Linked DNA regions of Homo sapiens. The protein of the gene in region 3 binds, or shares a complex with, the protein of the main gene of each other region. Links are inferred from orthologs where the notes say so. Each region holds a gene or a part of one and is shown on either strand. Other genes may lie near its edges.

The links. Proteins that work in one complex are often made in the same cells at the same time.
Region 1: the proteins of RHO (region 3) and GNAT3 are in contact, whole or in part, in a crystal structure (PDB 4A4M), measured with the Bos taurus proteins. The link is inferred for Homo sapiens from one-to-one orthologs. Residues at the interface, in NP_001014890.1 of Bos taurus: Leu72, Arg135, Val138, Val139, Lys141, Thr229, Val230, Ala233, Thr242, Thr243, Lys245, Ala246, Glu249, Val250, Asn310, Lys311, Gln312; in NP_001103452.1 of Bos taurus: Ile344, Asn347, Leu348, Lys349, Asp350, Cys351, Gly352, Leu353, Phe354.
Region 2: the proteins of RHO (region 3) and SAG are in contact, whole or in part, in a crystal structure (PDB 4PXF), measured with the Bos taurus proteins. The link is inferred for Homo sapiens from one-to-one orthologs. Residues at the interface, in NP_001014890.1 of Bos taurus: Arg135, Val138, Val139, Lys141, Leu226, Glu249, Val250, Met253, Met309, Asn310, Lys311, Gln312; in XP_010802144.1 of Bos taurus: Asp71, Ile72, Met75, Gly76, Leu77.

The regions. Positions count from the first base shown.
Region 1 is NC_000007.14:80,508,040-80,517,015, forward strand, and holds the start of GNAT3 (guanine nucleotide-binding protein G(t) subunit alpha-3), read right to left. Parts: upstream 4,026-8,976; 5' UTR 3,888-4,025; coding exon 3,770-3,887; intron 1-3,769. UniProt on the Homo sapiens protein: Guanine nucleotide-binding protein (G protein) alpha subunit playing a prominent role in bitter and sweet taste transduction as well as in umami (monosodium glutamate, monopotassium glutamate, and inosine monophosphate) taste transduction.
Region 2 is NC_000002.12:233,303,135-233,311,840, reverse strand, and holds the start of SAG (S-arrestin), read right to left. Parts: upstream 4,026-8,706; 5' UTR 3,819-4,025; intron 2,680-3,818; 5' UTR 2,652-2,679; coding exon 2,577-2,651; intron 1-2,576. UniProt on the Homo sapiens protein: Binds to photoactivated, phosphorylated RHO and terminates RHO signaling via G-proteins by competing with G-proteins for the same binding site on RHO. May play a role in preventing light-dependent degeneration of retinal photoreceptor cells.
Region 3 is NC_000003.12:129,531,541-129,537,318, forward strand, and holds the end of RHO (rhodopsin), read left to right. Parts: intron 1-710; coding exon 711-876; intron 877-992; coding exon 993-1,232; intron 1,233-2,067; coding exon 2,068-2,178; 3' UTR 2,179-3,804; downstream 3,805-5,778. UniProt on the Homo sapiens protein: Photoreceptor required for image-forming vision at low light intensity. Required for photoreceptor cell viability after birth.

The DNA.
Region 1 (8,976 bases), on a different chromosome or scaffold from region 3:
GAAAAAATAAAAATAAAGGGTTTTAGAACTAAAAGAAAAGAACATCTATGATGAACTTCCCATGATAATGCTGGAAATCACTAGCTAAAAGTGAAAAATTGTAGAATAAATGTTAATTATATATATAAATGTGGCAGAGGGTGTTTTGAATATGAAGAAAAAAGAAAGCTAATTTTTTTCCTATGCTTTCCATGGGGCTTCAAATCTAAGCAGCCCATGTGATGGAAATTTGCAAAAAAAACAAACGAAACTGATGCAGCAAAATAAACTCAAACTGAAATTTGATGTAATAAGCATAAAGAGAGGAGAAAGGAAAAATGGAAACATGATCCATATTGAGTTTACAATTAAATAATAGGTATTATTTTGAATAAAAGTACCATTGAATGAAACGTTTATAAAACTTTAAAACGTACTTAGATACAAATGAGAATATTTTATCCGTTAGAATTTGTTTTTCTTATTAAAATGTGCTCTTTCTGGAATATCTTTGCAAGTAAATTTTTTAAAGCATGTGGCATTATTTTCTTGATTGCAGTTATCAAATGTGCTCAGCAATGTATGAGTCATCTCCAGTGTTTCCTAAAAGCCTACTTTTTGCTAAAATAAAACACAGATTTGGCATCTGTTCTGTAATTTTACTGAAGGTCTGAAAGGTGTAATAAAAAAAGGCATCTGTCTGCAAGATGATCCTTTAATTGTAAAGTCGCACTTTGACCGCTCTTCAGATTCAGTGAAATCTTGTGTTCGATAATACCAAATGGTTACATCCGCTTTGCAGTACATGTTAAATGTGGAAAGTTGGTGTTATGAGTTTAAGCTTCTAGAAATTCATTAGATGAAGATCAACATACTGAAAAAAAATCTGTCAAAAGTGTTTTTTAGATTTCTTATTTTTGTAAATGTAGGTATTGACTCAGGAGCTGATCACTACTAAGGTTAAACTGGTTAGTTCCATGTGACATGTACTCACTGATAAACTTAAAAGTGTCATTCAGACGACACTGATGAATGAGAACATCGTTTCAATGATGGGAAAAATTAAATAGATTTCATTGGTGAGGAGATTTGAGGGTAGGAGAGTGGAAAGTTTTGGTTTAGTTCAACTAAGCACTTTTATAATGTCTTAATGAGGTCAAATTGAATATAAAAATTACAGTTTCGAGAATTTGAATTCAATCCAAACATGAGAATGAAGTAGAGCTGTTATAAGACTGTTATGAATTTGATAATTGTATCATCATATGTAGAATTCAGATGGACTCCAAAAGGGAAACTTAGCCAGATGTTTGTAATATAATTGAAATAGGAACAACTTAAGAGAATTTCATTTATTTTGTATAAATAAAATGTGACAAAGGAGTTTAGTGCACATAGTGTTGGAACCAAATAAATCCAAGTATTTTACTTACTAATGATGAAATTGTATGTATAAAATTGTAAACACCTTGGGAAAGTAAAACATGTAATAGTCCCACTAATGATTCTTTTATACTTCTGGTACAAATATTGCTCTTTCTTCTTGATCTAACCAACACTTAAGTCTAAAAATAATTCATCTGACTTATTTTTCATTTGATAGCATTGCATACAATAAGTTGGGTCCCAGTCAATGGCTCTGTGGAGTGGTAAAATTTACTAATTCTGGAACCCTGTATGTATCAGTAGTCCATTGATTTTCAGTTCCAAATTTAAAAAAAATCTTTCTTTTGTCCATCATTACATTGAACCTTTTTGACCCAATTTTCAGTGATGTGTTTTCATTCATCTATATATACTCTTTTTGAACATTTTTAATTTATTTTTTTAAATTGACAAATAACATTCCATGCTTGTGTTGTGTCCAACACGATATGTTGAAGTAAAAATACAGTGTAGAATGGTTAAATCTAGCTAATTAACAAATGTATTACTTCACAGTTATCATTTTTGTGGTAAGTGCACATAACACCTACTCTCTTTACATTTTTCAAGAATACAATAGATCATCATTAACTATAGTCACCGTGCTGAACAGTAGATCTCTTGAAATTTATTCTTCCTATTTAACTGTAATTTTGTGTCCTTTGACCAACAACTCCCTTTCCCCTTGTTCCCCCCAACCACCCTAGCCCCTAGAAACCACCTTTCTACCTTGTTCTTTTCCGTCACAACTGAATCTCTAGTTGACTGGCAGCTCTGATATGCTTATCTCAAGAGTCATTGCTTTTGGCATGTTTAATAGTTTTTGTCTTAGTCTAAATTGTGGTATTAGCTCTTTCATTGTTTTGGCTTTCCATTTGTATTTTTACAAAATAAGAGAATATGTAAAAAAATAGATAATTGGTATATTGAAAACACACATCTATTGAAATGTTATTTAAACACGGAAATTTTTAATACGTTTTATCACCATTCTTATGTCATTGATCTTAGTACAAAAGGAATATAAAAATGAATTTGTAAGAATGCTTGTCTTTCCCTTTTACCTTTCATTTGCTTTTCCTGTGTCCATATTACTTTCACTCTTGCTCAGAAACTAACAGAATTCTATGGTGTGTTAGGAAGCATATATTTCCTGGTGTCATTAGTACTTAACCCACATCTTTCAAAGTCACCAACCTCTGGGTAGTTACTGACAAGTGCTGTGGGCCTGTGTGCAGGCACAGAACCTGTGTGTAAGGGGCAAGGATGTTTCCTTTCCTTTAAGGAGCAAGTGCTGGGAATCCCACAGTTGGCTTCTGAAACACTCTTGCCACTGGGAGCAAATTAGACACAACGAAGGAATACTTAAATAAGTTTAAGTATTTAATTCATTTAATATTAAGTATTTAAGTGTTTAAATACTTAAAATATGAGGAAATTTGTTATGTGAAATATGCACGATTCTGAAATAAGATGAAGTCCTTTTGTGTATAACCAAAATCAGGGAGAAAGTACAACTCATAATTGAATCAGAAGTAAGTGCTTGCTTTGTATTCTTTATATAGGTCATCATTTTTATTTCAAAAACATATTTCTGTTTCAGTGAAACTGCATGTAAAATGTTTTATGCTTTATAGAAAAAATCTGCATATGGATTATTTTTATTCTTTCAATTAATTGAACATTTATTGAATTTATAGTCAAGGTAAAACAGTGCTGAGTTTTGAAAGAAGGAAAAAAAAATAAAAGAGACATAAATCCTGACCTGAATGAATATATAAATGCTCTAAAAGGATTTAGGTAGAGTATTTTTCAAGTGTACAGGCAATATTGCAGGCAGTATTCAGGAGCCTAAGTAATATTGTTAATATAATTTAAAGTACCTTATCATTGTTCTCTAACTTGACTAATTGATTTTTAACTATACAAGTAAATAACAAACATTAACTTCAACGTCAAACAATTCAACCTATTTCTGTTTAAACAAAATAATATAACTCTTTATAACTTGTAGCTAAAGGATTTCTTTCAGTATTAAAAAGCTGACATTCAGAAAATGATTAGGGTGCAATAAAATAATAAATGTATCTGATTTTTATTTTAATAATAGTAAACCATATTACTGACAGAGAAATTAGCTGATAAATATTTGCCTCCTTGCTTAACAAAAAGGTAATAAAATACTAAACAGAAAAATTATTAAATATTGATAGAGTACAAATAAATTTTCCTTAAGTTTCCAAACACATTTTTATAATAAATTTCCCATATGATAATACACTCGAAATTAAAGTCTGAGAAAAGTAAATATATCACAATTGAAAAAAAAGTCAGGTTTTTGAAAGCAAAAGGGAAAAGAAATTACCTAATAGTAGCAGCTTTACGGTTCTTGCATCTCGCTCAGCATCCTCCTGAAGCTTTTTCTCCAGTTCTTTTGATCTTTTGGCTGACTCCTTGCTCTCTGAACTAATTCCACTTCCCATCTTGTGGTGGTAGATACTTGTCAGTTTATATGTTCAGATTTTTCAAATGTTGAGCACAGCTGTGGTTTGGACATAGGAGGCAAGAGTAATGCTCTGCTGAAGTACCTAGCAGTCCATTCCCTAATGCTCTAAGATTCTGCTTTGACTAAGGAGATGCTTTCTCATCTGTCACCTGATCAGGTGGTAAAACCATACCCCCCTGATGGAGGCTAGAGAGGAAGTTCATTATGCTTTCAAATTAAATGACTGCTTCGGGCACATCTTCGAAAACAGGCTTATCTGCTTTATAGTATAAAATAATGTAGAAAGTTGTCAAAATCTATACACTAGAGATGATCTACAATAAGCAATTCAAATAGAATGTTTCTCACTACTGGGCAATTTTTATTACTGTGATTAAAAGTTATTATTACTAATCAGCGATGCTTACATCTTATCTTCAGATATTTGGCCCTTCAATTTCTTTATAATCACTCCTATATCACAATCAGAATATATACATGTAAGTTATCCAACTTTTATGGTCTACCTATGCTTAGATTATTACTTAAAGCTATTGAGCATCTATTAGCATCTGTCAGGGAACAAAAAAAATCTTTTTTTTAACAATGGATACAAATACATATAGTTTTTATATTTGTACATATTGTATTGCTACAAATATAAAATTCAACACAGTTTTCTTAAATTATTGATTTTAGTGTCATAGGATCCATCTCTATAAATTGAGCTTTTGCCGCCTGTGAGAAAGTCAATCCATCAACACTAATTGAGGGCCCACTTGGTGTAGACACTGAACTATGTTCAATTTAGGCAGCGCATTAACTCTTTAGGGCCATTAAGCAACAGCTGCTGTGCTGGAGGGACTCTTACTGATTTGGTACCAAGGGAATAAAAACCAATGTTCTTTGAAACAGCAGGTAATTTGGTTTTTCCTACAAACTAAAAACAGTAATTACACCTAAATAAGTTCCATAGCTTTCAACTACCCCAACAGATACCATGTACTTCTTGAAAATCTTCAGGATTGAGGGCAGAGATTATGTTGCACAATTTTTTATTTATATGAAGCATAAAGTGCTTGGTAGATAGTCAATCAATATTTTCCTTATGAACAGAGTCGGTTGCCTGTGGCACATCTTTCAGTGTGCATTTTGGGATTTGTGAATGTGCTTAACCAGAAAATGCCAGAATACAGTCAATCCACCAACCTGTCAGTGGTGCTCTTCTTGTGGGATCATGTGCAAAGTTTGAACAGGTGAGTTTTTACATATTCATGCAACAAGAAAATAGGCTGCCAGATTAAATACATAGTCCTGCTTTGTTTACTTTTTCCACATCAAAAATATTAGGCTGAAGATACATAAACATAGTCAAAACTTCCTGGGTTCCGTTCTTCCAAAGCCATATTATGATAGTATAAAGATGTGCAGTGGTGGATAGGCAAGGATTTGTGCAAATCATGTGGTATTGCTTTTACAATGCAAAGGGCCTGTCCCAAAGGAAGGAGATTTGCACGGCCTAATGCTCACCTGTGAACACAAAGTCCACTCTGAAAGCAACACTTAGCACATTTAATCTCTTTTTGCCTAGTGCTTTTTTATAGAAATTGAATATAATAGCACCCTGAATAAACAGAATTCTTGCATGTTCTATGGCAGAAACGAACTGACAGGCTACATCATATAATTTGCATACAAGCATAAATATACCTCATAGCTTTTTGGCAGAGACGTACCCTGCTTTTAGGAACATACATGTTTTACTAAGGCTTCCTAATGGGATTACTAACTAAAACTGACCAACTCTTTCAGGAGTAGGAGTATACATTTTCTGCACTGTATAAAACGATGAACTTCCACTTTTCTGTTGTAACCAGTAATGTTCATCAACTTGATGAGATTATCAGGTGATTTTTTCATCAGTGATTAAAATATTCTTGACATAAAACTCTAGGTATGTCTGTGTTACAGAGAGGGAGAGCGGGAGAGCTAGAGAGGAAAGCAAGACTCATTTCTCAGCCTTCTCCCCTGGGTGCCTCGGACACAGCATCATTAATGAGCTGGGCTTAATACAGCTATTAGTTCATATTGCTTCACTTAGTCATATAGCTTTCTGTACGTAAAGAAATGAGGAAAATCAAAATAGTAAACTCCGCTAGCGTGGTGATAATATCTTACTAGCTTGAATGGTCTACATGGTATATGGCACAGTACTAGTTATAGTAAATGTTCAAAATTACTTCTTGCTGACAAACTGATAGAGGCTGGAGGCCCTTTCTTTCCTGTGCTTAGTGACAGTATACTTAGGATTTCTTTTCTAAAATTTTGGAGTGACTCAAAAAAATCAACAAAAAGCCAAATTTTAGTTTTAAATAGTGTCAGTATATACGATTGTAGCTATTAGTCCAATAGTCACACATTTGTTTCCTCAGTCTTAAAAGTAATAGCAGCATCCTCCTTTTCAATTGTTAAGCCCTGTTTGTTCTACAGTAAGGGAAAACTGATAGAAGATGACAACAGAAAAAAAAAAAGCTAAATTAGATGCCGTGACCGTAAATTTTGTTTGTTCTTGAAAACAAGAAATGTGAAGCTAGCCAAAACACCAACATCATGTTAGAGTTTTATACATGCATACATACACACACACAGACATACACACATGTATGTAAGGTCAGTGCAAAAGTAATTGTGCTTTTGGTCATTTTAAAAGTAATTACAAAAACCGCAATTACTTTTGCACCAACTTAATGTATGTTCCAGCTAGGAGAGATGGTTGCCCTGTGTACACACACTTGCACACACAGACACGCACAAAAACGTGAATGCACAAGCCCATGCACACACACAAAAAGCAAGAGATTGTGTTGGAGTGCAGTGGTCTTTTAGAATAATCATTGAGAATGACGTTTAAGAATATTGTTTCTTTATTGCATCACAGTAAAATTGATTTGAGGACAAATACAGAGATTGAACCACACTTAACCTCCAATAGTCACTGAAATACCACAAGTATGGAGGATGAAAATAAATTTTCTGTTGCTATTTTTGGTTAGGATCTCTGTGGAATCTTCAGAAAGCAACATTAGCCTTTAAAAAGTGTGAGTAATCACTATTTTACATCGATGATTAAACATATAGCTAGAGGTGACATGCAATTATTTGCTACCTGCTTTTAATAACCAGATTTCAATCTATGTTTTTGGAGATGTCTCTTTTGCCAGTATCACCTGCGTTTCTACGGTCATCAAGCTGAATTGCTCGTGGGGATGTTACCTGTGGCTGACTTCAATGACTTGAGGTTGCTACGTCTTAGGGATGTCTCAATGGCTCAGCTAATGCTGGAAATTGCCAAAACAGGCTGTGATCAGTGTTACTCTTTATTTTGTTTCCAATCTTATAGGAGGTTTTGATTTCAGGCATTCTATCCCTAGGTGGTTTGAGTTGTGGCTGCCTTAGCAATGACCTTTATCCTTGTATATTCCCATGAAACTTGAGGCAAACCATCTCTCCTTTGCTAATGGTGCTCAAATGTACACTTCAGGGAGCTCCAAGCCTGGTATTTCTTCCAGAGAGTTCATGCCTTTTGGGGCTTCCTAAGAGCAATCTTTTGATCTTGAGGGAATAAAGCAAACCTTACTCTTTCAAGTTAGTACATTCAGATGGTGCAACAAGTTTACATTGCCAACATTAAACAGCTCTTATGTACTAATAGGTAACACAAATATGTATTTTTTTCATTGGAGTTGATTTCTACCTTTCTACATTTTTTTTATGAATTAGGATAGAATTTTATATATGATTATTGGATAAGAGTCACAACTGTTTCCCAGGGTGCCTTTTCCTATCTCAAATTCTGTCTCTTTTAAGATTTTTAAAATATTGCTCTTTAACACATTTCTATTACTAACTCCCATAATCATATTTCTCAGCAATTTCAGCCCTGATTGTTGCAACAGCTTCTCACTTAGGTTTCCTTACTCTAGGCTCCACTCTATCCCAGTCCAATCGGTCTGATTGTGCCAGGCTAAATTCCCTCAAAGGCAAGTTTAATTATTACTCCTTTCTGGCTGGAAAAAACAAATGATTCTATATTTACTACTTCCTCCTGTGTTACTCCTGTAACATATGTTATTACTGAGTACATGAGCATACCATGTACTCAATAATATAGTTAGCACTATCTAACTATCCAAATATATTTCCCAATCACAGGCAGACCTCAAGGATACTGCAGATTCTGTTCCAGACCACCGCAATAAAGTGAATATCACGGTAAAGTGATCACACAAATGTTTTAGTTTCCCAGGCCATATGAAAATTATGTTTATACTATACTGTAGTCTATTAAGTGTGCAATAGCACTATGTCTAAAAAAGCAATGTGCATACCTTAACAAAAAAAAATTGCTAAAAATGCTAACAATCCTCTGAGCCTTCAGCAGTTTATAATCTTTTATAAATCACTGTGTAAATATTAACAAAATAAATGTTTACAGATAAACACCATATATTAAACATCAAGAGGTGCAGTTTCATTGGCCATTGAACATGGTTTCAATACTTTTTAAAATTAAAGTATAGGAATATCGATAACTTGGAAAACAACACAAACTTGATTTTTACATAAAGCCTAACAAGAAAATAGTTACTACTTTTTGTTGTCCTTGTTATATAACTTCTTAGGAGTATTTATATAGTAGTATATAAATAGTAATCTTTTTGTATATCATCAGAGCTCTGAATTACCATGTGCATTGTCAATTTCAATATTTCAAAAGGAATCTTTTATTTTGAGCAGTAAGTCTCAATAGAGGGCTTAACATATTTAGTAAACCAGGCTACAAACAAATGTGCTGTCATCCAGGCTTTGTTTTTCCTTTTATAGAGCACAGGCATAGCAGTATCAGTTTTAAGGACCCTAGGATTTTTGGAATGTTAAATGAGCATTGGCTTCAACTTAAAGTCACCAGCTGCATTAGCCCTTAAAAAGAGTGTCAGCCTGTCCTTCAAAGCTCTGAAGCTGGACATTAACTTCCCTCTCTAGCTTTGAAAGTCCTAAGTAGCAGCTTCTTGTAATATGACTACTTA
Region 2 (8,706 bases), on a different chromosome or scaffold from region 3:
ACTTATTTTTATGCTCAGACAAAGTACTAGCAGAGAGGAGAGGCTGCACACACAGCCAGACCAATGACTGAGGCCCCTGAGAAGGTGGCCAACCATGAAACCCAGGGTGTAAGAGGTGGTGAACCTCAGATGGGAGCAAACTACCCCTTCCACTGCAACAGGAAGGACAGGGGCAGGATGGGGGCAGGTAGAGAAGTGGGTGATGTGAGACTGTAGCCAGCCTTCGGGGGCCCATCCAACAGCCACACACCCCTTCTTCCTGGATAAAAGCCGCCAACTATTGTTCAGGGACCACCATCTTCCACCAGGCGGTATGCTCAGAGGAGGCCGGCTCCAGGGTACGATTCTTGATTGGCCTGATTCACTACGATCATCTAATTCTTCTGGCTTGGGATTGGTTTACAGTGGACATGTGACCCAGTTTTGGCCAATGAGATATGAGAGAAGAGTCTTGGGAAAGATTTCCTGACCCTTACAAGAGACCCCAGGAAACCACAGCCTCTTCCTTCTGGATGTTGTCAAGTGTGGGTGAGACGCCAGGAGCAGGGGCAGTCATTTAGCCACCTGCTGGAGGATGAAGGTCAAAGAAGAGGGCAGCGTCGGGAGAATCACAGAGAAATGGGCTCAGAGCCCTGGCACACCATGCCTGGGGCCACACAGACATCGCTGGCAAAATGATCTGAATACATGAGACAGGAATTGAATTCTCTTTTCCCACCTGTGAGGACTTATCTACAAAAACCATCTACATTTCTTGGTGGAAAATCTAGGAGCAAGGGGAAAACAACGTGGGAAACCAACACGAGTGGTTTCCTCTTCAGCCAGAAGTTGAGATAAAATGGACTGGAAAGATACAACTTGGGAAAGGGCTTGGAGAACGAAAGAATCAGAGTACTTGATTAAAATGACCGAGTTCCTTAACTAGGAGAGGAGAAGGCAGAAAGCACACAGGCAAAGCCGGATCTCCTGGGTGGCACGGTAAGGATGGGGAGGTTCTTTGGACCCCATACCGGGTTCAGAAGTCAGCCACAATGGGCCAGGTGCGGTGGCTCACACCTGTAATCTCAGCACTTGGGGAGGCCAAGATGGGCGGATCACCTGAGGTCAGGAGTTCGAGACCAGCTTGGCCAACATGGTGAAACCCTGTCTCTACTAAAAATACAAAAATTAGCTGGGCGCGGTGGCACATGCCTGTAGTCCCAGCTACTAGGGAGGCCGAGGCAGAATTGCTTGAACCTGGGAGGCAGAGGTTGCAGTGAGCTGAGATCACGCCACTGCACTCCAGCCTCGGTGACAGAGTGAGACTCTGTCTCAAAAAAAAAAAAAAAAAAAAAGCCAGAATGATGGCGAGCTACCCTGTCCAGTAGGGTAGCCACTGCTTAAGGTGGCTCCCGGACACCTGAAATATGGCCATTCCAAATTGACATGTTCTGTAAACATAAAATACACATCAGATTTCAATAATTCTTATATTATTATTTACAAGTTGAACTGATAGTTTTTTGGATATAGTGGGCTGAAATAAAATATAACATCAAAATGAATTTCACCTGTTTCTTCTTACTTTTTAAATGTGGCTACTAGAAAATTTAAAATTACATATGTGGCTTGCACTAGATGTTGCTGAGCTAGATTTTTGGCCCACAAGAAGCTTTCGAGTGGAGCTATCCACAGAGGCTGGACGGTGGACCCTCTCCCATGCGAGGAAGTTCATGGGCACACCTGGAGCATCTAACGTGCCCCTGGAGAGTGGTGGAAAGGGGGCAGACTGGGGCATTTTCCCTTATCCAATGGCCCTGCGGGCCCAGCTGAGGCTTGAGACCCCCCGGGTGGGGTAGGTGCACGGAGAAGAAGGAGTCACATTGATCACTGTCTGGGTTTTACCCAGGCAGGTGACACAATAGATAGACAAAAGGCCAAGGGCATCACAGGTACTGACAAAACTGTGTTTAAATAGTAAGTCAAGGGTTCAAGGCTGGCTAGGAAAAGATGCAGAGGTGGGGGTGACAGTGTGGGGATTGAGGGATTCGGAGAAAACTGAGGGACACAGGACTAAAGTCTTGATGAGACTGAAGAGAAGCTCTATTTCTGCAGTTCATTCACTCATTTATAGCTCAGTGATCATCCATCTTAGACAGAGACAAAAATAGACACAAAGCTTCCCTGGCCCTCACAGTGTTTGTTTGTTTTTTATTTGAGACAGAGTCTCCCTCTGCTACCCAGGCTAGAGTGCAGTGGCACCATCTGGGCTCACTGCAACCTGTACCTCCTGGGTTCAAGTGATTCTTGTGCCTCAGCCTCCCAAGTCTGGGATTACAGGTGCCTGCCACCATACCCAGCTAATTTTTGTATTTTTAGTAGAGATGGGTTTTGCCATGTTGGCCAGGCTGGTCTCGAACTCCTGGCCTCAAGTTATCCCGCCTCCGCCTCCCAAAGTGCTGGGATTACAGGCATGAGCCACCGCGCCCTGGCCCTCAAAGAGTTTTGATGTTGATCATGACTACACTGTACTTGAAAAAGCTCCATTTTTTTTAAACAATAATTTCTATCAAATCACTCACTTGTGCACCACTCACCGATTTGTCCCGGGAGATCTTCTTGAAGATAACATGGTTCGGTTCGGACTTGCTGGTCTTCCCGCTGGCTGCCATGTTATCTGTCCCTGGCAACTTCTACCACCTTGGGGTGTTGGTCAGGTGTTAGAGGGTTGGAGAAAGGTAAGACAATCCTAAATATCAAGTCAAGAACATCCTAGTTATGAAACCTACTCACGAGATCCTGTGCGTCCTCACCATGCCCTTGTACCGGCTTCAACATCCGAGTTTCATCGGTGAGTCTTTGCTTAGTTTGTATTTTACTGCAGCATGCTTTGGGGTGTTTTCAATATTTTATTTTTCTTGGTAAGCTTCAAACATTTCTCAGTACACCTTGCCAGGGAGTCTAGCTAGATTCCAATGAGGTTTTACTTTCTGACTAACCTTTGGTGTTATCACACTTAGCCAGGTTGAATTTAAAGTTCTATCGTGACTGTGTCTAATGGCGAATAAATCAGAAAAGTTCCTGAAAACCACAACATAACCACTTCGCAAAGACTGTTTTCAAGAAGATATTAATGGCCGGGCACTGTGGCTCACACCTGTCATCTCAACATTCTGGGAGGCTGAAGCGAGAGGATCATTTGAAACCAGGAGTTGGAGACTGGCCTGGGCAACATAGCAAGATCCTATCACTTTTTTTAAAAAAAAAGAATATATTAAAATCCCAAAAGTTCTATTTGGCAATTCCTACTAAGAGATAGCCACTCTGTTTTACAATTAAGAGGCCATCTTAGCGGTCTAGAATTAAGCATACTCTGAGGTTTTTTTTTTTTTTAAGATATAGGAGCTCGTTCTGTTGCCCAGGCTGGAGGGCAGTGCCACAATCATAGCTCACCGCAGCCTCGAACTCCTGGGCTCGTGATCCTCCTGCCTCAGCCAGCTGAGTAGCCAGGACTACAGGTGTGTGACACCATGCCTAGCTAATTTATTTTTATTTTTGTTTTTTTGTAGAGACTGGGTCTGACTGTATTGCTCAAGTTGGTCTCGAATTCCTGGCTTCAAGTGATCCTCCAGCCTCAGCCTCCTGAGTCACTGGGACTATAGGCATGAGCCATTGCACCCGCTCACTCCAAGTCTCCTTAAATAGCAACCAAGTCTTATGGAAACCACACAGAAAAGGTGAAGGCGGGACATACTGTCTGCAGGAAAACGCCCATCCTTGCTCTTCCCCACACCTGCCCCAGGTTTCTGATAAGGTTTTGGCCTGTGGTGGTCACATACCTTGTGATTTGTCACCAACCAGGTGGGAAGGGCCGGGTGGCAAGGAGAGGGTCTCTATGCTCTGAGATGATGAATAGCCAGCCCCTGTTCTGAGCAAGCTGGTACCGTCTTGCCAGATGAGCCTGAAGGGGCACCGCTGAGGCTCCTGGCCTACGTATGTGGGGAATTTGTAGGGGATCTAGCGAGGATGCCCAGCATCCAGGTCTCAATGTCTAAAAGCCAAATCCCACTTAAGGAGCAGAGTTGGATTAGTGCTGAGACAGTGAACTGGTAGTTTCAGCAGTTCTAAGCATTAAGCAACACCCCCCGCCCCGGTCTCCATACGGAGGGTCTCACAGATGTATGAGTCACCCAGCTGACTTGGGGAAGGTTGGTGGGAGGGCCAACAGCTAAATGAAAGCTACTTTTTCTTCTAAACCTCTTTGGATTCTGGAAATAGACTGATTATCTCTTCATTCCCGGGCATTGCCAGGACAGGAAGAGATTTGATTAAACTCAGCAGGCAGCTAATGCGACCTTGCGGGTGGGGACTAAACAAAAAGGTCAAGGAGAAATGTCAACCTCAAGATGAACCTGGTGTTATGCAAGCCAAGCTGGATCTGTCCCTCTCCTCCACCCGGTCCTACTGATTGATGGCTTCAGGAGTCCTGTTGATCCCCTCAGTGTCTCTGGAACCTGTCTGCATCCTCCCATCCCCAGCACCGCCTTTGCTTCTCAGGACCGGAGTGATTCCCCACTGTCTGACTACATCTATTTCTTTTCTTTTTTTTGTTTTGTTTTTTGTTTTGAGATGGAGTCTTGCTCTGTCTCCCAGGCTGAAGTGCAGTGGTGCAGTCTCAGCTTGCTGAAACTTCTGCCTCCCAGGCTGAAGTGCAGTGGTGCAGTCTCAGCTTGCTGAAACTTCTGCCTCCCAGGTTCAAGTGATTCTCTTGCCTCAGCCTCCAGAGTAGCTGGGACTACAGGCGCCTACCACCACACTGAGCTAATTTTGTATTTTTAGTAGAGACAGGGTTTTACTATGTTGGCCAGGCTGGTCTCGAACTCCTGACCTCAGGTGATCCACCTGCCTCGGCCTCCCAAAGTGCTGGGATTCCAGGAATGAGTCACCGCACCCAGCCGACCACATTTATTTCTACCCTCCAAGCCCTTTTCCACACAGAGGCAGAGAGACCTTCTGAGCCCTGTCATCCCTCGCTTACAATCACCCATTGCTCTTAGAATGCAGGCAAAAAGCTTGCAGCCTCTGGAACCTCTGCCTGCCTTTCCTTCCACGCCGTCTGCCACGCTTCCTCCTTCCCACTATTATTTCTGCCTGGAACAAGCCTCTCCTCTCTCCACTTTGTTGACTCTTCTTGGCCTTTCAGATTTTTGACCAGGAGTCACTTCCTCAGGGGAGCTATCCCCAACCTCCAGGACCAGATTGGAGGCACGCTTGCATTTCACTCTTTTTTTTTTTTGCTTTCGAGATAGAGTCTCACTCTGTTGCCTGGGCTGGAGTGCAGTGGCGCGATCTCGGCTCACTGCAGCCTCCACCTCCTGGGTGCAAGCGATTCTCCTGTCTCAGCCTCCCGAGTAGCTGGGATTACAGTTGTGCACCAGCATGCCCAGCTAATTTTTGTATTTTTAATAGAGATGGGGTTTCGTCATGTTGGCCAGGTTGGTGTCAAACTCCTGGCCTCCTGAAGTGCTGGGATTATAGGCATGAGCTACCGTGCCTGGCCACATTTCACTCTTGCTTGGGAATTATTCTACAGTCTCTCTTCCCTCACTGGAGTCCAGGCTCCATGAGGGCAGGGCCTAGGCCATTTTGTTTCCTTCACTTTTGTCTTCACAGTGCCCAGAACAATGCCTGCTCCCAAGAACACTCAGGGAATGGATGGAGGGGACTCTGCGACCACTAACACACTTACATGGGGGACTGACTTGGGAATGAAACAAGTATATGCAGAAAGCCTGTTCTGACGTTTGGGGTATCAGCATCCACCCAAACATTCCAATGGCTTCCCATTTAAGTCTGGACAATGCTTGCCAGGTCCGGCATGCTCTGGCCCCCCTTTACCTCTGACTTTATTTCTCACCACCCTCTCCCTTGCCCACTTCACTCCAGAGTACTGAGCCTGTTTTCTTTTCTTTTAGAGACAGGGTCTCGCTCTGTCACCCAGGCTGGAGTGCAGTGGTGCAATCATAGCTCACTGCAGCTTTGAACTCCTGGGCTCAAGCGCTCCTCCCACTTAAGCCTCCCGAGTAGCTAGGACTACAGGCACATGCCACCACACCCAGCTAATTCTTTAACCTTTTTGTAGAGATGGGGTCTTGCTATGTTGCTCAGGCTGGTCTCGAACTCCCAACCTCAACTGATCCTCTCACCTCAACCTTCTAAAGTGTTGGGGTTACAGACGTGAGCCACCACCACTGGCCTGCTTTTCTTTAAACCTCCGTCTAGGCCTTTCCACTTGCTATTTCCTCTCCTGGAACAGTCTTCCCACAGCCAGCCACATGGCTCACTCCTTCAATGGCTTTGAGTCTTTACTTCAATGTCACCCTATCCTTAGCATACTCTATGGTTGGCCTCACCATACCTGAACTGCAAACCCCCTATTTTAAAACACAAAGATTATTCATTGGTGCTAAAACCATTAGGTGAAGAGTTGCTGGGAAAATGACTGTAGGAGTGAAGTGATGCCACACGGATCATGGTGTCATCACAAGGTGCACGGCAGATGCCATGGTCAATCTTAGCATTGCTGGTGGTGTCAGCCACATGGGATGTGTCCCCTTGGGTTAACTTGAATCCATGAGCCTTCAGACATCATTTCTAGTTTATCGGAAATACAAGGAACGAGCTACGTGACGCAAGTGAGCAGCCAGACAAATCCAACAAACAATGCCATAGAAATGGGTAGGCCAGGTGCAGTGGCTCACGCCTGTAATCCCAGCACTTTGGGAGGCCGAAGCGGACGGATCACAAGGTCAGGAGTTCGAGACCAGCCTGGCCAACATAGTGAAACTCCGTCTCTACTAAAAATACAAAAATTAGCCAGGCGTGGTGGTGGGCGCCTGTAGTTCCAGCTACTCGGGAGGCTGAGGCAGAAGAACTGCTTGAACCCGGGAGGGGAGGTTGCAGTGAGTCAAGATCGTGCCACTGCACTCCAGCCTGGGTGACAGAGCGAGACTCTGTCTCAAAAAAAAAAAAAAAAGAAAAAAGACATGGGGTTTACTAGATTAAAAGACGCTAAGACACTCGAGACCCAGATGTCATGTGCAGCCCCAGACTGAATACACAACTGGTCAAAAAGGATGTGTAGGACATTTTGGGTTCATTGGGAAAATCTGACTATGGTAAAATGCCTGGAGTAGAAAGGTGAGAGATTGTGACAGAACCAACAAGACTGCAGAATGGTGTGCTTAGCATGTCCACGTTTTGCAAACACACAGAGACTATGTATTTGTGTATACATACATATATGTACATTTACACACACATGCATATACACACAAGCATATTTACACACATACATGCAGGTTCATATGCATGCTATACCTATGCATACTTTGCAAGAATACACCTTAAGCTAACATTGGTAGTTAAAGGTCTCTCATTACCTTGTAATGAAATGGTAGGCTTTGTTTCAATTTTCTTGTCTATAATTTTTCACATTTTCTCCTATGACCATTTACTGCTCCTATAATAGAAAGGTTAAAATACAAAACTGTGTTATATAAGTGAGGTGTGGTGGCTCACGCCTGTAATCCCAGCACTCTGGAAGGCTGAGGCTGGAGGACGGCTTGAGCCTGGGAGGTTGAGGCTGGAGTGAGCCATGATCACACCACTGTATTCCAGCCTGGGCAACAGAGCGAGTCCTTGTCTCAAAAACAAACAACAAAAAAACAAACAAACAAAAAACAATAAATAGGGCCAGGCACAGTGGCACACACCTGTAATCTGAGCACTCTGAGAGGCAGAGGCAGGTGGATCACTTGAGCACAGGAGTTTGAGAACAGCCTGGGCAACATAGTGAGACCCTATCTCTATAAAAAGTAAACAAAATTAGCCAGGCCTGGTGGTGTGTGCCTGTGGTCCCAGCTACTTGGCTTATGCCAGAGGATTGTTTGGGCCTGGGATGTTGAGGTTATAGTGAACCGTGAGCATGTCACTGTATTCCAGCGTGGGCAAAAAAAAAATTGCTGTGGCCGGGCACGGTGGCTTACACCTGTAATCCCAGCACTCTGGGAGGCCGAGGTGGGCGGATCACCTGAAGGTCAGGAGCTTGAGGCCAGGCCAACATGGTGAAACCCTGTCTCTACTAAAAATACAAAAAAAAAAAAAAAAAAAAGCTGGGCATGGTGATGTGTGTAATCCCAGCTACTTGGAAGGTTGAGGCAGAAGAATCACTTGAACCCAGGAGATGGAGGTTGAAGTGAGCCAAGATTGTGCCACTGCACTCCAGCCTAGGCAACAGAACCAGACTCCAACTCAAAAAAAAAAAAACAAAGGGGAAAAAATGACTAGGGTGCTTCTTTCAGTGTCCCCATCAGAGGGCTGCCCTGAGCTGAGGCTGCAGGACCCAGGCCCAGTTTGCAGCTGTGAGTGCTTCCAGATTCCCCCATTCTCCTGCTGCTTCATCGTTCCCGGCTGCTGGAAGGCACAGATCTGCAGATCTTAGTCACTGCTCTGCCAATGCCGTGCAGGTGGGGAAATTTGGGTGGACTGGATGACAGATCTCACTCTTTTTGGAAATGTTATTCCCAACTCTTGGTCTGTGATGATTTTTTCTCTTCTTGGTGGAGAAATGAGAAAAATAAGGACACTCTTGTAGTTTTTCTGGGAGCCAAACTTATTCAATATAAAGGACTGTCCTTTTGAGATTATGAGCTTTTTAATTTTTTG
Region 3 (5,778 bases):
AGAGGCCTCATGTCCCTCTGTCTCCAGAAAATTCCCACTCTCACTTCCCTTTCCTCCTCAGTCTTGCTAGGGTCCATTTCTTACCCCTTGCTGAATTTGAGCCCACCCCCTGGACTTTTTCCCCATCTTCTCCAATCTGGCCTAGTTCTATCCTCTGGAAGCAGAGCCGCTGGACGCTCTGGGTTTCCTGAGGCCCGTCCACTGTCACCAATATCAGGAACCATTGCCACGTCCTAATGACGTGCGCTGGAAGCCTCTAGTTTCCAGAAGCTGCACAAAGATCCCTTAGATACTCTGTGTGTCCATCTTTGGCCTGGAAAATACTCTCACCCTGGGGCTAGGAAGACCTCGGTTTGTACAAACTTCCTCAAATGCAGAGCCTGAGGGCTCTCCCCACCTCCTCACCAACCCTCTGCGTGGCATAGCCCTAGCCTCAGCGGGCAGTGGATGCTGGGGCTGGGCATGCAGGGAGAGGCTGGGTGGTGTCATCTGGTAACGCAGCCACCAAACAATGAAGCGACACTGATTCCACAAGGTGCATCTGCATCCCCATCTGATCCATTCCATCCTGTCACCCAGCCATGCAGACGTTTATGATCCCCTTTTCCAGGGAGGGAATGTGAAGCCCCAGAAAGGGCCAGCGCTCGGCAGCCACCTTGGCTGTTCCCAAGTCCCTCACAGGCAGGGTCTCCCTACCTGCCTGTCCTCAGGTACATCCCCGAGGGCCTGCAGTGCTCGTGTGGAATCGACTACTACACGCTCAAGCCGGAGGTCAACAACGAGTCTTTTGTCATCTACATGTTCGTGGTCCACTTCACCATCCCCATGATTATCATCTTTTTCTGCTATGGGCAGCTCGTCTTCACCGTCAAGGAGGTACGGGCCGGGGGGTGGGCGGCCTCACGGCTCTGAGGGTCCAGCCCCCAGCATGCATCTGCGGCTCCTGCTCCCTGGAGGAGCCATGGTCTGGACCCGGGTCCCGTGTCCTGCAGGCCGCTGCCCAGCAGCAGGAGTCAGCCACCACACAGAAGGCAGAGAAGGAGGTCACCCGCATGGTCATCATCATGGTCATCGCTTTCCTGATCTGCTGGGTGCCCTACGCCAGCGTGGCATTCTACATCTTCACCCACCAGGGCTCCAACTTCGGTCCCATCTTCATGACCATCCCAGCGTTCTTTGCCAAGAGCGCCGCCATCTACAACCCTGTCATCTATATCATGATGAACAAGCAGGTGCCTACTGCGGGTGGGAGGGCCCCAGTGCCCCAGGCCACAGGCGCTGCCTGCCAAGGACAAGCTACTTCCCAGGGCAGGGGAGGGGGCTCCATCAGGGTTACTGGCAGCAGTCTTGGGTCAGCAGTCCCAATGGGGAGTGTGTGAGAAATGCAGATTCCTGGCCCCACTCAGAACTGCTGAATCTCAGGGTGGGCCCAGGAACCTGCATTTCCAGCAAGCCCTCCACAGGTGGCTCAGATGCTCACTCAGGTGGGAGAAGCTCCAGTCAGCTAGTTCTGGAAGCCCAATGTCAAAGTCAGAAGGACCCAAGTCGGGAATGGGATGGGCCAGTCTCCATAAAGCTGAATAAGGAGCTAAAAAGTCTTATTCTGAGGGGTAAAGGGGTAAAGGGTTCCTCGGAGAGGTACCTCCGAGGGGTAAACAGTTGGGTAAACAGTCTCTGAAGTCAGCTCTGCCATTTTCTAGCTGTATGGCCCTGGGCAAGTCAATTTCCTTCTCTGTGCTTTGGTTTCCTCATCCATAGAAAGGTAGAAAGGGCAAAACACCAAACTCTTGGATTACAAGAGATAATTTACAGAACACCCTTGGCACACAGAGGGCACCATGAAATGTCACGGGTGACACAGCCCCCTTGTGCTCAGTCCCTGGCATCTCTAGGGGTGAGGAGCGTCTGCCTAGCAGGTTCCCTCCAGGAAGCTGGATTTGAGTGGATGGGGCGCTGGAATCGTGAGGGGCAGAAGCAGGCAAAGGGTCGGGGCGAACCTCACTAACGTGCCAGTTCCAAGCACACTGTGGGCAGCCCTGGCCCTGACTCAAGCCTCTTGCCTTCCAGTTCCGGAACTGCATGCTCACCACCATCTGCTGCGGCAAGAACCCACTGGGTGACGATGAGGCCTCTGCTACCGTGTCCAAGACGGAGACGAGCCAGGTGGCCCCGGCCTAAGACCTGCCTAGGACTCTGTGGCCGACTATAGGCGTCTCCCATCCCCTACACCTTCCCCCAGCCACAGCCATCCCACCAGGAGCAGCGCCTGTGCAGAATGAACGAAGTCACATAGGCTCCTTAATTTTTTTTTTTTTTTTAAGAAATAATTAATGAGGCTCCTCACTCACCTGGGACAGCCTGAGAAGGGACATCCACCAAGACCTACTGATCTGGAGTCCCACGTTCCCCAAGGCCAGCGGGATGTGTGCCCCTCCTCCTCCCAACTCATCTTTCAGGAACACGAGGATTCTTGCTTTCTGGAAAAGTGTCCCAGCTTAGGGATAAGTGTCTAGCACAGAATGGGGCACACAGTAGGTGCTTAATAAATGCTGGATGGATGCAGGAAGGAATGGAGGAATGAATGGGAAGGGAGAACATATCTATCCTCTCAGACCCTCGCAGCAGCAGCAACTCATACTTGGCTAATGATATGGAGCAGTTGTTTTTCCCTCCCTGGGCCTCACTTTCTTCTCCTATAAAATGGAAATCCCAGATCCCTGGTCCTGCCGACACGCAGCTACTGAGAAGACCAAAAGAGGTGTGTGTGTGTCTATGTGTGTGTTTCAGCACTTTGTAAATAGCAAGAAGCTGTACAGATTCTAGTTAATGTTGTGAATAACATCAATTAATGTAACTAGTTAATTACTATGATTATCACCTCCTGATAGTGAACATTTTGAGATTGGGCATTCAGATGATGGGGTTTCACCCAACCTTGGGGCAGGTTTTTAAAAATTAGCTAGGCATCAAGGCCAGACCAGGGCTGGGGGTTGGGCTGTAGGCAGGGACAGTCACAGGAATGCAGAATGCAGTCATCAGACCTGAAAAAACAACACTGGGGGAGGGGGACGGTGAAGGCCAAGTTCCCAATGAGGGTGAGATTGGGCCTGGGGTCTCACCCCTAGTGTGGGGCCCCAGGTCCCGTGCCTCCCCTTCCCAATGTGGCCTATGGAGAGACAGGCCTTTCTCTCAGCCTCTGGAAGCCACCTGCTCTTTTGCTCTAGCACCTGGGTCCCAGCATCTAGAGCATGGAGCCTCTAGAAGCCATGCTCACCCGCCCACATTTAATTAACAGCTGAGTCCCTGATGTCATCCTTATCTCGAAGAGCTTAGAAACAAAGAGTGGGAAATTCCACTGGGCCTACCTTCCTTGGGGATGTTCATGGGCCCCAGTTTCCAGTTTCCCTTGCCAGACAAGCCCATCTTCAGCAGTTGCTAGTCCATTCTCCATTCTGGAGAATCTGCTCCAAAAAGCTGGCCACATCTCTGAGGTGTCAGAATTAAGCTGCCTCAGTAACTGCTCCCCCTTCTCCATATAAGCAAAGCCAGAAGCTCTAGCTTTACCCAGCTCTGCCTGGAGACTAAGGCAAATTGGGCCATTAAAAGCTCAGCTCCTATGTTGGTATTAACGGTGGTGGGTTTTGTTGCTTTCACACTCTATCCACAGGATAGATTGAAACTGCCAGCTTCCACCTGATCCCTGACCCTGGGATGGCTGGATTGAGCAATGAGCAGAGCCAAGCAGCACAGAGTCCCCTGGGGCTAGAGGTGGAGGAGGCAGTCCTGGGAATGGGAAAAACCCCAACTTTGGGGTCATAGAGGCACAGGTAACCCATAAAACTGCAAACAAGCTTTGTCACCTCTCAGAGCTTCCTTATCTGCAAAAAAGAATCTTAAAACTGACCTTGGCTGGGCACAGTGGCTCACACCTCTAATCCCAGCACTTTGGGAGGCCAAGGTGGGCAGATCACGAGGTCAGGAGTTTGAGACCAGCCTGACCAACACGGTGAAACCCTGTCTCTACTAAAAATACAAAAATCAGCTGGGCATGGTGGCGCGTGCCTGTAATCCCAGCTATTCAGTGGGCTGAGGCAGGAGAATCGCTTGAACCTGGGAGGTGGAGGTTGCAGTGAGCCGAGATTGCGCCACTGCACTCCAGCCTGAGCAACAGAGGGACAGTCTGTCTCCAAACAAAACAAAACAAACAAACAAACAAACAAACAAACAAAAAACAACAACAAAAAAACCACTTGATCCTAAGGGGATTAGATGCGACTGTGGACTTTAAGTGGCCAGCCTACTGCCTGGCATGCAGCAGATGAGACTATGGCAATACTGGGCTTCAGCTCAGAGCTGGCCTTACTAGAGACCCTGTCCCAAAGGGGAAAAGGATGGAGCTAAAGCTCCCGAGAGTCACCCCCTCCTCCGAGGTGAGAAAGGAGGGCAGGAGCATGAGATAGCCGATCCTCGGTGCCTTGGTGAGGCTGGGGCAAATCATGCTGGGATCTCTATCATTGTCCCTCTTTACTGTGACTCACTAGATAATATCAGTCAGGATACTTTTGGTCACAAGTGATAGGAAATCCAACTCATTTGGGCTGAAGCAAAAGGGACACATTGTTGGCTCACATGAACAAAAAGCCCGGGGCTTCAGGCACAGGGTATCACCATGACTGAGATGGGGATTAATTCTGTGATTGGCCAAGTCTAGGTCACCTGATCATACGTAACTCATTTATGCCTGAGGTTGCAATTTTTTGGATTTTTGCAATCAGACCTTGGCGATGACCTTGAGCAGTAGGATATAAATAACTCCCACATGCTTAGCGTTCCAATAATGGAATACTAGGCATACGCAGGTCTAACTGCATCACCATGGCTGGAATGGGGATTCATCCTCTGATTGGTCAGACCTAGGTCACATGCTCACCCTGCAGCCCAAGCAGGCTGAATGGGGAGAGGTAGGTTTCACAAAGGAAAGCCCAGGTGCTGTTACCTGAAGTAGGAGGGCAGGAGGCAGGGTGAGCAGAGCCAACATCAACCCAGAGGGAATGGAATCTAAGTTGGTGTTTTCTGGGCACGTGGCTGGACCAGGCCTCCCTCCCTCATCATCTCAGGGACATGAGGGAGAAGATTCCTATGGGTGGTCCCGAAGGTCTCACCCTTTGTTTTGGATGCTGTGTTGGGCCAGGGTGGCAGTGGGTGGGACAGTGGCATCTTAGCTGCCCTGACTTGCAGGCAGCCCATTCCAGCTCCCCGCCCCAACCCCAACCCAGCCCACTTTTTCTGAGAAATGGTACATTTGCCCCAGCCTCATGTCCAGAGGAAAATTTTACTCTAACACCAGAACATTCTCTGGTTTGTCCTGATAGACAAGAAAGCCTCCACCTCCTTAATTTACAAATGACTTGACAGCTGCTTCGTGGGCACTTGCATACATAAAGAGAAGGAGCTGCTGCCTTAAGTTGCAGCAAGTTTGGCCCCACCTCATCTCCAGGCAGCCAGCAGATGTACAGAGTGCCTCTTGGGTACAATGGCAGCTCCATTCAACCAAACCTGAGCAAGCTGACCCCATGCCAGAATGCACTGGGGACTCGGAGATGAATTGGAGCCTAGAGACCAAGTCTCTAGGCTATGACCTGGGCTGCCTCACGGCCACAGAGCTCTGTCACGCCAAGGGAGAGATGCACCCCTGAAAGCCTGAGGTGCCCCATAAGGAGAGAGTGGGTGCCCTTCCCAACTATGTAGCTTCAGGGCAAGTTCTCTTTCTTTCTTTTT